2 linked regions of the Homo sapiens genome follow. The protein of the gene in region 1 purifies or fractionates together with the protein of each later gene. This does not show direct contact. Each region holds a gene or a part of one and is shown on either strand. Other genes may lie near its edges. The genes, in order: CEP162 and KCTD8.

Evidence for each region.
Region 2: the proteins of CEP162 (region 1) and KCTD8 purify together in Homo sapiens (affinity purification with mass spectrometry; 2 studies listed by BioGRID and IntAct, with this or other methods). This does not show direct contact.

The regions. Positions count from the first base shown.
Region 1 is NC_000006.12:84,223,503-84,232,371, reverse strand, and holds the start of CEP162 (centrosomal protein of 162 kDa), read left to right. Parts: upstream 1-4,728; 5' UTR 4,729-4,792; intron 4,793-5,919; 5' UTR 5,920-5,978; coding exon 5,979-6,035; intron 6,036-8,869. UniProt on the Homo sapiens protein: Required to promote assembly of the transition zone in primary cilia. Acts by specifically recognizing and binding the axonemal microtubule.
Region 2 is NC_000004.12:44,445,068-44,454,095, reverse strand, and holds the start of KCTD8 (BTB/POZ domain-containing protein KCTD8), read left to right. Parts: upstream 1-5,286; 5' UTR 5,287-5,572; coding exon 5,573-6,533; intron 6,534-9,028. UniProt on the Homo sapiens protein: Auxiliary subunit of GABA-B receptors that determine the pharmacology and kinetics of the receptor response. Increases agonist potency and markedly alter the G-protein signaling of the receptors by accelerating onset and promoting desensitization.

The sequences.
Region 1 (8,869 bases):
AAATCAGTAATGTTCCATATAGCCCTGTCAGTAAAACTATTTGGAGGCAAACACACTCACTTTATGAATATTTATTTATAAATTAATATATTTATAGCAATTAGTCCGCAATATTAGTCAAACTTTAATTTATTAAGTTTGAGATAAAAATAAATTGAAAATAAATTCTAATATTTTCTTCTTATATCCAATCACCTCCCCATCATCTAAGGTATGTGAATACAAAAAAACTTAATTTTAGACTAACATTATCACATAGACCCAGTCTAATAATTTGTCAATAATCAGATGAGCTTAATCCATATTTTAGATGTGCTAAAAATCACAATTTTGTATATATGCGTAAAACACATATTTATACTTATTTCTCTAACTTGCTGGGGAATTCATGTATGTATTACATTGATTATATATTAATAGATGTAGAAATTTTGTGATTATCTGGGTTACGGAATTATAATCTAAAATATCAGTTTTAGACAGCACTCTGGAGCTCAAGGGAGGTCCCTTCAAGACCAATAAAAAAGCATAGAAAGAGAGCTCAAAACCATCCTTCACCTGCCTCCCAACCATTGCAACTCTGCTTTGTTTTATACATTGTGCTTCTCACAAGATTTTCCTAGAAGAAAGGATTCTGAAACATATATATATAACCTATGATCTTATTCTATCTAGTAACGGATTGACAGAAAGTTGGGGAAAATGGGACAGGCGTCATTTAGATTTCACCAATTTTATATGCACTCACTTGTATATGTGTGGTGTGTGTGTGCATTTGTATGCAATCTTATCAACATGTAGCTTGTTATAACTGCTACTGTATCAGGATACAGAACAATTCCATCACTACAAAGATTTCCTATGCTACCTCTTCATATCTACACTCACCCAGTTGATAGTTCATTGTGGTTCTAATTTGCATTTCCCTAATGATGTGGAATATCTTGGTGATGCTGAGCATCTTTTCATGTGCTTATTCACCATTTTCATATACCTTTCTCATGTCCCCTTTGGTGAAATGTCCACTCGTGTCTTTTGTCCATTTTCTAATTGTGTATTTTGCTTTTGCTATTTTGCTAGTGTTCTTTATATGTTCTAGATAGCAGCCCTTTGTCAGATATGTGGTTTGCAAATATTTCATCCTAGTCTTTAGTTTGTCTTTTCCTCCTCACAGGGTCTTCATAGGCTGAGTTTTTCCTTGATTCGTCAATTTTTGTGTTTTTACATTTCCATAATAATTATAAAACCATGTTGATAACTGTATTATTTAGAAGCATAGCCAAATTGCTGACATCCTCAGTGGCCATTTACTGGATTATTAAAGAATTATTTTAAAAACAATTTCATGACCTAAATCACCATCCATGAGTTCATGATATAATTGTAAATGGGCAGCTCTGCATACCCTAGGGAAAGAGCATCTGCCTGTATTTTAGAAACATTTAAATACTTGTAAATATGACTGTACAATTTCTCAATATTCTACTATGAATTATTATTCTTTTTCTTGGGAACAACTTATAACAATAGCTTAAACTTTGACTACTACATTTCATATACAAAACAATTAAGAAAAATTTTAAGTAGTCAAAAGCAGTCAGATGTGGACAAATGAGCAGAAGTCAACAATGACTTTGACAAACAAAATAACGATGGCAATAACAAAAAAACCATTAATTTTCTTATGACTAGAATGATACGATTCCTTCAGTGTCTTCCTCATTATCCACATAAGTGAAGAGAATACCCACTTCTGAAAATTAGAGGTAAAGAAGCAAGCAACTGGAACTATTATGTAACTGTATCTGATTCAGTTCTTCTCCTTAATCCACTCCCACAATGTGCTAAGTTTACACCCCATTACCGTTGCAGGTCTTGGCTACAACTATACTGTCAGTGTTGACCGAGTTCTCACACTGTACTGTTTGCTACGAGAAAAGGCAATATAAGGCTTGAGGTACAGTCTCCCCCTCTAGAACCTCACTAGAGAGCTGGATAAACACCAAATATAAATCAAATTTCATATCATTCTAGGAAACACAAAAAGAAACACATAATGATTGAGAAACCTGTAACAATTATGGAGAATCTAAAAGTAGGAAACTTTGATGCTACCCAGAGTGATTTAACTACTAAAGTAGCCATTTCATTGACATTTTAGATATATATTTATGATGAGAGCTAGTATTAAATGGTGTTTTAAATTATGGGTCATGAGGTCAATTCATTTTATAAAAATGAATACAATAGTATACAGCACAGTGTAAACTCTCAAAAAATATTAATCATTCTTTTAATGACTATTATTTTGAAAAATGTATAACAATTCAATTCAGTACCAAAAATTTAGTGACATCCCTTCCACAATTCAGCATAACAAACTCTTGGATCCTATAAGCATAAGTTTTGTAGGTTTACGCATAGAGACAAAATGATTATTCACTCTTTAGACACAGTAACATTCATCTTCCACTCCTTATACCAAAGCTCCAATTCTAACCTCAATAGGACTGAACTCTGTACCAGAGCTGCAAATAATTCTGCATGCCTTGGTGAGTGGGGGTGAGAGGAGGCTGTAGAAGAGAATAGTGCCGACCATACCATGCAAGTCCTTGTAGATATTTGGATTTTAGTACAAATACAGAGAGAAATCATTGTAGGATTTTCAGCAATGGAGTAACCTGATTTACATTTTCAAATTATCACATTTTCTATTGTGTAGACAATGGGTTAGACGAGGATAGGAGTAGAAATAGAGAAACTTGTTAGAAGGCTAATGAAGCAGCTCAGACAAGAGGAAAAGATGCCTCTATCATTAGTAATTAAGATGTAAAATGAACAGAATAGAGACACATTTTGGAGGTAGCACCAACAAGTCTTGACGAATAAAATATGGGAGAGAGGGAACTCCCAGATTTCTGTCTTGAATGAGTAGGTGTATGGAAGTACCATGAAGTGTGACAGAATAAGAGTCCAGAAATAAGCCCTAAGAAATTCTAACATTGGCCAGGCGCGGTGGCTCACACCTGTAATCCCAACACTTTGGGAGGCCAAGGTGGGCAGATCAGGAGTTCAAGACTAGCCTGACTAACATGGTGAAACTCTGTCTCTACTAAAAACACAAAATTAGCCAGGTGTGGTGGTGGGCACCTGTAATCCCAGTTACTCGGGAGGCTGAGGCAGGAGAATCAGTTGAACCCAGGAGGTGGAGGTTGCAGTGAGCCGAGATCGCACTATTGTACTCCAGCCTGGGTGACAGAGCAAGACTCCGTCTCAAAAAAATAGAAATTAAAAAAAAAGAAAGAAAGAAAAGAAAAAAAGAAAAAGAAGAAAAGAAAAGAAATTCTAACATTTAGAGGTCAGCTAGGATAGACAGAGACAGTGAAAACCCTTGAGGGGAGGCTATAAATGTGAAAGAAAAACCAAGAAAGAGAGGAGACAAGTGTATCAAATAGTATTGGGAGATCAAATAAAGCGCTGTCATATATGTACACTTACACACACAGAGACAGGATTAAAAGGTCTGACAAAAGGGAGGTAAAGTGGAAATAATTCCTCAGAAAAGATTGGCAAGTAAGGTGAGGAGACAGATCATTTCAACCACTGGGAAATAATAGCATGAAGAGAATGTGTCAGAAGTGATGTTTTAGGTGGGGATCTCAAGGCATGTTCAAATGCTGTTAGGAAAAATCCCACAGCCAGCCAGAAGTCGAAGATACAGGATTAAGGGAAATGACCAGTGGAACAAGATCAGTGAGAAGAAGAATGGGTAAAGGCTCTAGATCATATGTGGGAAGGTAAGTCTTTGATAGAAGGTGGCAGGAAGTCAACTTCTCAATAAATGGTAGCTTAAGATATTTCTTTTATTATTCATATTTGCATCATAGTCCACAGCTCCTGGTTTGTACATATTTGTATTGCAAGAAAGACTTGATGAATAAACAGTTCTAGCTAAAGATGAGGTCCTGAACTAAGTCTACCATCAGCAAAACCTGCAGCTGTTGTAGATTTTACTTACACTATGCTAAATGTTGTCCTCTGAAACTCCAGCTAATGTTGCATGCTTTGAAAAAAAGAAAAGAAATAGAAAACAAAATCCAAGTCAGTAATTGTGAAATGCCAGTAAAGAATGCAGTTTTGAAAAGTAGGGGTAGCGGGAGGAGCAATAACTTAATAAGAATCTTGCTGTTTGCGTATTTTCGATTTCTTGCCCACTAGGTGGTGGAACAGAGTCCCCATCTAAACGACAGTTTTTTTCCTCACAGGTTTGTGTTTCTCTCACAATGCCTACACAGGTCTTTGCAGGCCAAAGAAATCCAAGAAATTCAATCTCTTCAAAATTGCCCCTTGGAAAAACAGAGCGCTCGAATGACAAGTGTGGGGAAGGCGGGAGGCGACGATGCGGAGTGCGGAAACACAAGGACCAGGGGAGCTAAACTACATTTCCCAGAAAGCCACGGGCTGGCCTACAACCACCGCGCCCTCCAAGCCTGCTGGAAGCCTCCGTCTCGCTTCTCCAGTAACCGGTTTGCCGCTGTCCCCTTTTCTAAGGAACGTAGAGAAAGCCAGGGAAGGAAAGGCATTTTACTGCAGCAGCGAAGGTTTAGCCACTAGAGTGTCTTTCTCAGCCGTGGTTATTCCGACCTTCGCTTGTAAAGGCATTGGGAAACCCACGGCCCACGTGACCAGCCCGGGTCATGTGACTCCAGAACCCGGCAGCTGAAGTCTGTTACCCTGACAACTGGTGGACCCGCACAGACCTTCCGGGAAAGCGCGGAATTCAGAGGCAGAGGTAGGTGGTAAGGTGTGAACGCTGGTTTCCCACCCAAATCGCCCTGGTCGAGGCCGTGCTTCATACTCGAGCGAAGGGCTTTAATTTTCCAGGTCATTCCCCTTCTCCGCCCGGAGCCCACGGCAAATGCGTCTTTGTCTTCCCTCCAATTCCCGAACCCGCGCTTCTGGGGACGGGGTCGCAGCCAGGCTTGAGAAGCTTTTAGTGGAGCTCACCCCTGACCAAGCTATTCAGGCCAAGACCTTAACCGCACTTACCCTGAACTGATCGAAAGTGCAAATGAGGGGAAGAGGTGTTACTCTGCACGATGGGGAGGGTATTGTCCGGGTCTGCAAGCCCTCTTCCCCTCCCCCATCTCTACAGAAGAAAGCTGGGATTTGAGCTGCTCTAGGGAGTTCAGGAGCTGGGGGTCGACCCAAGGTTGGGTTCATTAGGTGTCTAGGGGAACGCTTTCCGTTGCAAATCACTGGATTCTGCTTGTGTTCAGCACATAATTTTTGTCGGTCTTCCCTCGCTTCAAAAGAAACATAGTACTGATTTGTGTACTCCATTAACTTTAAGTATTCTTTAAGTATTTTGACTAAATTACTAATTCTTACTAAATTCTATTTGTGTATATTTTGAAACATCCCCGTATCTGGATACAGTCTGCTTTACGAAACTATGCAGTCTGCTTTACGAAACTATTACTATGGATTGGTAAAATAACGAGCCGAGTGATAAGGCAGCACAAACTGTCGTGTGCTTTGCAAGAAAGAAACAGTCCTTTGGATTTGCTAACTTACAGTTTTTAAGATTCCCTGTGAGGACCTGGTTTGTGTTTGAGAGGTACTAATTAACACATGCACACAAACATAGGTTTGGGAAATATTGTAGAGACCACTCTTTAACAATTGGATGTTAACAGATGAAAACATAATTCTGAACGTTGAGTACAAGACATCCTGTCAAAGCTGCTTTTCCAAATCAGTTTGCTTAATGAATTAGGAATCTCTTGACCAGCTCTTACTGGTTAAAAAAAATTGTGCATATATACTGAATCATAACAAATGTCCGAAGTTTAAGTCTGGTCGTGTTCATGATCTGATGGATTTCCTCAAAAGATGTTTATGTCTCTTGTCATTTAGTGTTTCCAATGTTTGAGGTACTTTAGAATGTTTACTTTGGGAGGTCAAAATTGTTGACTATGGCTAACTGTTCCCAAGAAGAGCTAGATGAAGAGTTTGAACAGTTTATGAAAGAGGTAAGTTTATATTTTTAAAAGCTATATTGTCAAATTTGTCTCAAAAGACTCATCCTTCAATTCTGTCATCTCGAAGATACAGTTAGTCCATCACCAAACTCTGAATTCCCATCATCCCTCTAGCCCTGTCCCTTTTCTGCCACTGCTAGTTCAGTGCCATCATCTCAACTGGGCTATGGCAGCAGTTCTCAACTCATGGTCCAGCATTCCTTTCACCACACTGCAGTCAGACTCTGTTCCTCCCCAGTAAAAGACTCTATTGGTCTCCCATCACATGTAGAAAAAAAAAAACAAACAACTCCTCCTTACCATGGTTTTAAAGCCTTTCATGATTTCACTCTTACATATCTCACTGCCTTCATATCCCTCTTTCACCCACTTTATTTATTCCACAGTGGCCTTTTTTCTTTCCCAGACATTGCAAGCTCATTTCACCTTAGGAGCTTTGCACTCACTGTTCCCTCTGCCAATAATGCTCCTCCCTTACTCTTTACCTGGCTGGTGAAAATCTTAACTTAAATATCACCACTTCAGAGAGGCTTCTTCTGTTTATCCAGTAAAAGGTAAACACAAAGTCACTTCTTAATCTGGTATGTATTTAATTCTTTTTATAGCACTTAGCACATTAATTATTTTTCTTGTATGGGTCTGTTTTCTGCTTCCCATTATAAGAATGTATGGTCTGTAATGTGATGACTCTACGTTCATTGCTATTATATATCAACATGTTCACTACTATGTCTACAGTACCTAATAAATACTTAATAAATATTTGAATGAGTATATTAAATGGTTATACCACGTTCTGTGTACAGTCATGCACCTCATAAAGATGGTTTGGTCAGCAACAGACCACATATACAACAATGGTTCCGTAAGATTATAATGGGGCTGCCCTATAAAGGTGTATCTTTTTAATCTTTTGTACCATATGTTTACTTTTCTATGTTTAGATACAGAAATGCTTGCCATTGTGTTACAGTTGCCTGCAGGATTCAGTACAGTACATGCTGAACAGCTTTGTAACCTAGGAGCAATAAGCTATACCATATAGCCTAGGTGTGGAGTAGGCTATACCATGGAGCCATCTAGGTTTGTGTAAATATACTCTATGATGCTCCTATGATGAAATCCCATTTCTCAGAACATATCCCCATAATTAAGCGATGCATAAAACTCTATTTATATAAATGGAGGGGCCTTGTAGAGCATTCAAGAGAGTCACATTTTAAGCTATTATACGTTATACATTCTTGTTAAAAAAGGGAGTTTAATGTAGTACAAAAAAACTTCATTATCCGTCTCATGGAAAAATAATGCCTTCTTTGTAGAATTGTTTTAAGGATTTAAAAAAGCATCTACCAATTGTCAAGATGTAATAGGCACTTGGAATAAGTTTCATTTACCATTTGAAAAGTTGATTTTTTAAAATTTCAAATACAGACACATTTTGAAAATTAAATTTATAGGAATGATTTTTATTGTAAAAGATAGCAGAACAGGCCTTTTAGAAGATGTTTTTATTCTTCCCTCATTTACCACCCTTCCAGCACACACATTCTCCAACACTCTCCTTCCCCCACCCTTCTGTCTGTGTCTCTCTTCCTCTTATATCCATCCTCAGTTGCAATGTGTCATTTTTTTTTTACTGTGAAAGTCATGATTTTAGAGTCATGCTAACTTTTCTCACTTTGATAAATTATTGTTCAAACAATTTATTCAAAGACATAGTTTATATATCTTTATTTTTTAGGACAGTAGTGGTAACCAGCTTTTTAAAAATAGCTTTATTGAGACATAATTCACATACCATTTAATTCACCCATTTTAAATGTGCAGTTCTGTGGTTTCAGAGTTATGTAACCATCACCACAATCAATTATAGGAATTTTTATCACCCCAGAAAGAAATCCCATATCTGTTAGCAGTTACTCCATCTCCTTGTTCCCCCTTCCCTAGCCTTAGGCAACTACTAAGCTGACTTCTGTCTCTAAATGTTTGCCTGTTACAGACATTTCATAGAAATTGTATTATATATTATGGGGCCCTTTGGGTCTGGTTTCTTGTACTTAGCATGATGTTTTCAAGGTTCATCCATGTCGTAGTATGTATTAACACTTCATTTCTTTTTATGGATAAGTAATATTTCATTGTGTAGATGTACCACATTTTGTTTTTCCACCTGTCAGTTGACGGACATCTGGGTTCTTTCCACTTTTTGGCAGTTACAAACAATGCTGCCATGAACAATCATGTACAAGTTTTTGTGTGGATGTGTTTTTGTTCCTCTTGTGTATATGCCAAAGAGTGAAATTGCTGTATCATATGGTAGCTGTGTGTTTGCCTATTTTCTAAAATGACTGTGTTATTTTACATTTCCACTAGTAGTGTATTAGTTTATCAGAGTTCCAATTTCTTTTTTTTTTTTCTTGAGACTGAGTCTTGCTCTGTTGCCCAGGCTGGAGTGCTGTGGTGCAATCTTGGCTGACTGCAACTCTGCCTTCTGGGCTTAAGCAATTCCTATGCCTCAGCCTCCTAAATTGCTGAGATTACAGGCGCCTGCCACCACGCCCAGCTAATTTTTATGCTTTTAGTAGAAATGGGGTTTCACCATGTTGGCCAGTCTGGTCCGAAACACCTGACCTCAAGTGATCCGCCTGCCTCGGCCTCTCAAAGTGCTGGGATTACAGGTGTGAGCCACCACACCCAGCCTAGAGTTCCAGTTTCTCCATATCCTTGCCAACAACTGTTGTATCTGAGAATCAGCCTTTTTGTTGTTTTATTTCTATTTATTTTATTTTTATTTTTATTTATTTATTTATTTATTTATTTAT
Region 2 (9,028 bases), on another chromosome or scaffold:
TGAAAATTCTTTTCCAGAATGTTCTGAGGTTATGAGGAATTATGTTGCCCTTTCCCCCCAGGCTTTGGGGAGCTAAGCTATATTTTAAGAAGGCAACCAGTTGTGCACAATGAGAGACTAGACCATCTATTGCTAACCACCTTCCCAACATAAACATTCCCCCACCCACAGCATATTAAATTAAATAGCTACTTCTGAAAACATGACTTATATATCATATTAGTTAATATGAAAATAGTTTGCAAATAATTTTGACAAGTACCTGTTGATCAGTTTATGTGCCGGTATTATATTAAATGCTTAGCTATACTGGATCATAATCTATACAAGCTTTCATCAATTTCTTTAGGTATCTAATTTTATAGAGTTTAACCACGTGTTACCCTAAACTTCAGTAGTATTTCTATACAATTTTAAATATAGAATCAGAACTCATATTGAATTATATTAAGATATTGAAGTTGCTGGAATATGTTATTTAATGTGTTCATTAGCATAGATACTCTGAGTTTCCTAAATATCTGATTTGCAAAAGTTTTTCATTTTATAGAACCATTGACACTCTTACAATTAACATATGAGGTTTGGGGGCAATGCATACTCTACTTTCCAACTTTCCCTAGATTCAGCAGCAATTGCTGAATTTGCAGAAGATCTTTCCCATCTTATCTTCAGTCTTATTCCTACAAAGGCTAACTCTGCTTTGTTTGCTCTGATAGGAAGCTCTTTATTTCTAACTTTGCTAAAAGCCATATACCCACAAAATAAACCCTGGCCTGGCCTGCTGTTCACAAGAGTGATACATGCATTATGGGGGTGTGCCTGTTGTGTAAGGAATATCTAAGTTCTTTCGTGATTACTTTCTATTTTCTCCTCCCTCTCTCTCTCTCACTCTCTCTTTTTTTCTGTTTGTTATTTTTGCTTGTTTTTTTTTTGGCCAGAGAGATGTTTTATGGTTCCCATTTCACGTGTTAAATGACTCTACGCAAGTACTGAATTCCAGCCTCCTCTCATTACAATCTTGTAATTAAAAACTTTTAAAAGTTATACTTTCTTACCTAATCCTCAAAACACAGACAAGCTTTAAAGTCACAAATGCTCTAGAGCTATGCTGTTCAGTTTAGAAGCCACTGGGCACATGCGACTATTGAGCATATGAGATATGGCTAGTCCAAGTTATAACTGTTTAGATGTGTCAGAAGAGCTAAATACATACCATATTTTCAAGACTTTGTGTGGAACAAAATGTAAATTATGTCATTAATACATTTTGAAATGAGATTTTGGACATACTGGGCTAAATAAACAATAATATTAAAGTAATTTCATGTTTATTTTTTAATGTGGCTGTAAGAAATTAAAAATGAGATATATGGTTCCTATATTTGTATTAGACAGCACTGCTCTAAAAATTGCAAAGGCTCTGGTACTGGAAAGAATGTCAGGCTTTTTACTTAGAATTACATGAGATACTTGAGGGTTTTTTGTTTGTTTGTGTTTATTATTTATTTATTTTGGTAAAACTTTCAAATGTCCTGAACTAGATTAACAGACACCAGATGGTTTCCTGAAAATTAGAAGCACAGTTGGCCTTGGACAGAAGCAAGCTAAAAGGGGTAATTAGACCATGGTCAAAAGACTGAACAAAGTTAAAAGAAAAAAAAAAAGAACAGGGCCAAGGTAAATTAAATCAACGAAATTATATCAGTGTCTAGGATGATAACATGCAATGAAGGAGACAACAATAGATACAGACAGGGAAGGACATGATGGTATGGGGATGTTCATAATGACAGGGCTGTGTAACCCCAGGCCTTAGGGGTGAGACAACTGGAAGGAAGGTAGGTAGAGCGACTAAAATCAGTTACCTGCTTCTGGATCTTGGATCTATCTAGTCAAGATGTAACTCTGTTCCCATCCCTGAGAACCATACTGTGAAATACACATTATAAATATATTGAACTCCATCAAACTTAGGTGGATTTGTTACAAATCATCATTGATGTGATGAGCTGAGGTCTTTGTTATTTCCATGGTGCCCATGAAGAAACTGAGGTTCGGAGTAACTTGCTGAAATTGCAAAGCTAGTAAGAGACAAAGTTAGATTTTAACCTAGTTCTATTTGATTCTAAATGTCGTTATCATTTGTGTTCTTCCTCCCCTTTAGAAGAAGATACATTTTCTGCCTTTAAGTAACTCTCTACCTGGTGAAGAAATATTTGTTATTATAAATTTTAAATTATTTATGTGTTAAAATCTGGATTCAATATATCCTTTTTGGTTTGTTTGCTGTGCTTTTAGAGACACTCAGGTTTGACCGTGTTATTTTAAAATGTGCTGGGTATGGGAACTGTTCTAGTGTAATTTCTATTCAGAGAAGCTTGCTGCCTTGTCTTTGCGTAGCAACAGAAGATCTTAAAGGACCCACATATGTGATCAAATTGGTCTAAGGAACATTAATGGTGTCTGTGGCTTAGAGCAAAATGGTTCTGATTACGGTATTTGGTGTTGATTGCTCAGTTCACCAAATGGATTGCTTCAATTGTGTCTCTTTCTTGCTTTCTCTTCTCTTTTATTTCTGAGTTTATTTTGATTAGATTCTGGTTCTCACTTTACCTGATTTTAATTGTGAAGAACAGTTCTAACTCAATCCTGCAATCTCATTATTTAGCCTGGTACCCAGCACATAGGTGATGCATTGTCATCTATTTATGATATTAATACAGTTCTATTCAGTGAGCTTTCAACACATATAAATTGGCTATCTCTTTATGGGCTACCTCTATAGCCTACCTCCATGGGGATATAATAGTGCATACGGTCGCATGCCATTTTTACAACGTGGCGGGACACAGTTACACATCAGTGTGATAAACCTTGCCCATGTATAAACATGGGATCTTATGGGAACATCTTAGGAAGACGCTTCACTAGGTTGGGTAAGTGAATGTAAAGATTTCTAGAGAAAGTGATATTTAAACTAAGAGCTGGAGGAAATTGGTAAGCAGGGAGAATGGGTTAGGGATCTGGTGGAAGAGGAAGGGCATTCCTAGCAGAAGGAAGAGGAAAGATAGAAACATTGTAGATCTGCAATTTGTTCAGTCTGAGTTTGGTTGAAGGGTATAACTGGGAGACAGAGGAGAGTAATAGGAGTGTGAAGAGAGAAGAAATTAAGAAAAAATGTTTAATCAAGTTGAAGGAATCATTTTAAAAAGGAATATATCAAACAATACAATTCATTGTGAATTTTTGAGATGATTCATTTAGAGTATAAATTTTTGATCACTTTATCTTATAGACATAATTTATTTAATTCAAAAGTAAAGATGGATTTCAACCTGATATTAGCGACTTCATATTCACATGCATATTTATTATATATCCACTTCATTACAGTTCTACAGTCTGCACCTTACTTATCATTAGGGACACTTACCTTATGATAAATGGGCTTCACTAGTAGTGGTTTGAGGCATTATTATATATTCATCTATGAAGATTATAAAGCATCTATTAATTCATTTATCCAGGAACGATTACTTTAAATCCCGAATATTCTTCTAATGAGGCAGAAAATAGTGTATTTTTTCTGTTATTTTAATACTTGGTTTTAACTTTTAAATGAAGGCTAAATCAATTAAATTAGTTAATTTGATCAATCAGTTTATAAATTTGGCAGGACACAATAGTTTTGAGTAAAAGGATTGCATGATGATGCATACCGAAACCCCCGTTTTAAGTCTCAGTCCTTTGGCAAATATATTCTGTTCTTTCATTGGTCCATTAGGTTCTCTCTGCTTCATATAATGCAACTTCAAAATTGGTATAACATTGTCTATGGATGCAGCTTATAAGGATCAATGATTTAAACATAATTTGTAATGTTCCAAAAATAATGTATTAATTTACAACCGTATCTGAAATTTGATACTTTTTTGGGTGGTTTGAAGAAAAGGAGTTGTTAGTAGGCATTTAACTTTTTAAAAAATATTAAAATCTGTATATCGACTGCTAATGGATAAAGTTCATCTGTAATATTGTTATGATAATTGAAGCAAACTACTTTGTGCCACAATACACCCTTTTCTCTTTTGTACTTCATAAATCAATGATTCTTTATGTTTCTGAACACAGATGTATGCCCCAGGGTAGAAGAAATATTTCTCATTTGCTTTCCTATTTTCAGTCTTTATCACAAGTAATGCTCATTTTGCAGACTGTACCTGTACTATGTACACATGGAAATTAAGGTGAGCTTAAATTCATATAATTTTTATTTGTGACCTTACTCTTGGGGTTAGAAGACTAATAAAAATATCAGCCACTTCTCTTGTTTGATGGAGCTGAAAGGGAAATGGAGAGATTAATGAGACTGATCAGGATTAGAAAGAATGAACAAATCGAGTAAATTTCCTCTCGGGCTCCGTCTCTCCCTCTATAAACATTTATTAAGCATCTAATTTAAAACTAAAAATTGTAAAAATGTCGGAAGGAAACAGTTGTTACATACACTCCTTTATTATTGTGAACTGAAAGCAGATTACAAAGTTTTAAAAATTATTCAAGGATATTCAGTGCACGCAGTCGTGAAATTTGATTCCAAGAGAGGTACGCGCATTTAGCCCTTCACTTAAACTGTATCATAAAGCCACTACAAGAGATGTACCTTCCCACCCTCACGTAATCTTTTTGCAATCACTGCTGGCAAGCCAACATTTGTGGTGATTTCAGATTAGGAGCCTGGCATCTTTGCTATAATCAAAACCTTATTCTCCCCTCTCCGCTCCTCCACTCCTTACCTTAATGAAAGTGCAAAAAACTAGTTTTACTGGGGAGGGAGGCAAGGAAGGAAGGAAGAGAAGAAGGAAAGGAGGGAGGAAAGGGGGTGGCACAGACCCAAGGAGGGAGTGAAATGAAGGAATGAGAGCGCTGTCCCTTTTTCTCGCTTTTGCTTTAGGAGCTCCCTGCCTGCCTGTCCCCGCGGGTCGGGGAGCTGCACCTCTTGCAGGCTCGGCTCTCGGCCCCGCCCCCTAGCGTCGGAGCCCGGGAGCCGCGGCTGCAGCCTATCTCTTTAAATGACAGCTGAGGCTCGGGTCCCAGTCCGGGGCTTGACGTCAGTGCCTCCTCCCGTGCTGCCAGGAGTAGTTAGCGCCACCGTCGGCGCTCCGGCCTCGCGGCACGCTTGCAAGCTGCCGGGGCGGCGAGTTTTCTTTGCTTCGGCCCCTCCTCCCGCCCTCCCCACGGAGAGCCGAGCAGCAGCCCTAGAGCCTCTCGCAAGTCTCTCTCACACTTCCCCGCCCTCGCCCCAAAGGAGCAGCAGCTCCTTCTTGCCTCTCCATTGCCGCCGCCGCACCGGCGGAGCTCCTCTCTCGCGCGTCTCTCCTCCGATGGAGCTCGGGCGCCGCCGACGCCGCCGCTGCCCCGAACCCTGAGCGGGGCCGCCCCGGTCGGAGGAACGCGCCGCCCAGTCCGAGGGCGCAGAGCGCCAGGAGCACGCGGAGGGCTGGGGCGCGGGCTCCGGGAACGAGAAAGTGCAGCTCTCTCGGGTCACTGGGCCGGCGGCGGGGGGACTATGGCTCTGAAGGACACGGGCAGCGGCGGCAGCACCATCCTGCCCATTAGCGAGATGGTTTCCTCGTCCAGCTCGCCCGGCGCGTCGGCCGCCGCCGCCCCGGGGCCCTGCGCACCCTCGCCCTTCCCTGAAGTAGTGGAGCTGAACGTAGGCGGCCAGGTTTATGTGACCAAGCACTCGACGCTGCTCAGCGTCCCGGACAGTACTTTGGCCAGCATGTTCTCGCCCTCTAGTCCCCGTGGCGGCGCCCGGCGCCGGGGCGAGCTGCCCAGGGACAGCCGGGCGCGCTTCTTCATCGACCGGGACGGCTTCCTTTTCAGGTACGTGCTGGATTATCTGCGGGACAAGCAACTCGCGCTGCCGGAGCACTTCCCCGAGAAGGAGCGGCTGCTGCGCGAGGCCGAGTATTTCCAGCTCACCGACTTGGTCAAGCTGCTGTCGCCCAAGGTCACCAAGCAGAACTCTCTCAACGACGAGGGCTGCCAGAGCGACCTGGAGGACAACGTCTCGCAGGGTAGCAGCGACGCGCTGCTGCTGCGCGGGGCGGCGGCCGCCGTGCCCTCGGGCCCGGGAGCGCACGGTGGTGGCGGCGGCGGCGGCGCGCAGGACAAGCGCTCGGGCTTCCTCACGCTGGGCTACCGGGGCTCCTACACCACCGTGCGCGACAACCAGGCCGACGCCAAATTCCGGCGTGTGGCGCGCATCATGGTGTGCGGGCGCATCGCGCTGGCCAAGGAGGTCTTCGGGGACACGCTCAACGAGAGCCGCGACCCCGACCGGCAGCCGGAGAAGTACACGTCCCGCTTCTACCTCAAGTTCACCTACTTGGAGCAGGCCTTTGATCGCCTGTCCGAGGCCGGCTTCCACATGGTGGCGTGTAACTCCTCGGGCACCGCCGCCTTCGTCAACCAGTACCGCGACGACAAGATCTGGAGCAGCTACACCGAGTACATTTTCTTCCGTAAGTTCGCAGCCCCGGCGTTTCCCAGCACCCCTCGCCCCCTGCTGAGCCGCCGCCAGTTTGAGCCCCGCTGGAGGCCCCGCGGGGGTGTCCGGGGCAGGCGCTGGTTAACTCCTTATAGAGAGCGGCTCTCCCTGCACGATTCCCTTATGCAGTAGACACGATTTACATTTCACCGATTCGGATATTTCCGTCTCTACTCCCCCTTTCTAGAACTCAGTAGCACCCAGCTCCCAGCTGTCTACTTGCTGAACTTTATTGATCTTGCCTTCTCGGCCCAGCCCGCTCCCAGATGCCAGGGTCTCCTCGGTTGCGGAGGACAGGGTGGGAGAGACTGGGGCACAGGGCAGGGTGCATAGACCCTCCTCCACCCCTTTGCTTTTGCAGGACTGCTGGGGGTCATTTCATGTGGCCCTCAGTGGTGTCCCTGCAGAGGGCAGGATGCCATAACAAGGCATCGCCTCGCACCACCTGGATCACCTGCTGTTGGTGCAGCTGCCGCGCGGGAGCCTCCAGTTACGGGTGGTTTTCTAGAGGGCAGGGGAGAAGCGATAAAGGTGCCCCCAGAGCCCCTCGAGGGGGCGGGGGCATGAGAGCGGGTGTGGGGAAAGGGGACTCCTTGACAGATGGAAACCCAGATTTCCCTGCGTCTGTTATCTCCAGTCTAATTGCCCAGTGTTTGGGACAGGGGAGGGTGGAAGGAATTAGAAAGTTTGCATGTCTGAGTGCTGCTCTTAGGGTTGGAGATTAGGAGGGGCAAGGGAGGAGGGAGGGAAGGTGTTGGGGAGGGAGGGGAAGAGAAAGAGAGAATGATTGTGTTTCCTTCTCCAGCGCGAAAGCGGGGGTTGAGTCCACTTTCTCAGGGTGAATAAATAGAGCGATTTTCTGAAATGAGAGAATGAAGGAATAGATTTGGGAAAGCATCTGGGGTGCGTTTTGCAGTGCGCTTCCGGAGCGGGCTATGTGGAGTTCAAGAACTATACCAAATACCATAATCTGAACCTGGGGATTGGGAGTGGGATTGGGAGTGGGGTGGGGCTGTGGTGGGCACAATTCTCAGTGGCGTTTATGAAGTGAAAAGACAACGACTAGAGAGCGATTTGGACAAACGAAAAGCCAGCTGGGATGGCAGCAGGAACATTATTTGGCAAAGGTTTTTCCTTTGGCCAGACACAAGTTAAAACTTGCCTGTAGCATAGGGAGAATAGCCTTGAAATCCTGTGATGGAAATAGACCAGCTTAAATTGAATTTATTTATTTTGGTAATTTAGTCACTACAGTAATTGGGAACTGAACAATTTTCTGGACTTTATTTTGACTGGAGAAATGGAAGGGAACTCTCCTTGCACAGGTGCAAGCTTAACTGGAAGGTTGGCTTAGTGTTTGTATATTCTGGTAACCTTGGAAGTTGGGTGACAAACCACAGCACACAGGTTCTCAGAGTTAGACTACTTTTTAAAGTAATGCTGGATTTCTTGAGACAACGGTTTCAACAGAGAAGCAAATGAAGTGTCTGTCCACTGAATTGGAAGCTAAAAAACTGTCTTAATTATATCAAAGTATTACTTGTTACACAATAAAAAGATTAATGGTCAGAAAAGCCACCCAAGGGAAGATATTTTATTGCTTGTATAAAATTGACATCTCTTAAATATATATTGAGTAATTAAGTATTTTAGCACCATTTTATTTCTTATCATTGTGACCTTTGTCAACAACTTTTTAGATTTTAAACCATTTAAGTCATTTCAATGTAGATTTCCAAACATTTCAGAAGATAAGGTAAAATGAACTTTTGCCTTTCTTGTAGTTAGTGTTTTTTGTTAGAGAAGATACAAGCATGAATGTTCTGCACAGTTTTCTGAAATTTTGAAAATCTTACTTGGTTTTGGTTTTTCTTATTCCTCTAGAAAGATGTGGACATGAAAATGATCATTACTTTGATTATGAAGAGATAATACAGGTTATCTCTACATTAGGAAAAAAGTGCCCTTAGTATATTGAAACTGGAAACTTAGTTAATTTAGCTAATGGGATAAATTTGAGAGATATTTGAAATTCAGGATGTTTCACTTCTAGAGCTACAGAAGTGTTAAATATTCATATTATGAATAACTACTTTCAGAGTACTCATATTATTAATGACCTCTGAAATTCATTCATAAAAAGTCCCAGAAATCTAAGGAGGCAACCTATTTTGGGAGAAAATATGCAATTCCAGATTAAATATTGTTCTTTTGAAGTGGTAAGCTAGTCGTTGATCAACCAGGTGGAGTTGTCATTTTAAATGTTGGATGTAAAATTTGTCTTGAGTACTAGAATACATATATTTATTTTATTTTTTACAGCTTTCATTATATTTTTACACATTATTTTGAATGGGATTCATTTTAATATTTGGTGAATGAAAACACACTGTAAAATGTATTTCCATCGTATTCAGTTTAGTTGATGACCAAATGTGTTTATCTTATTTGGCAAGTTTCTATTTAAAA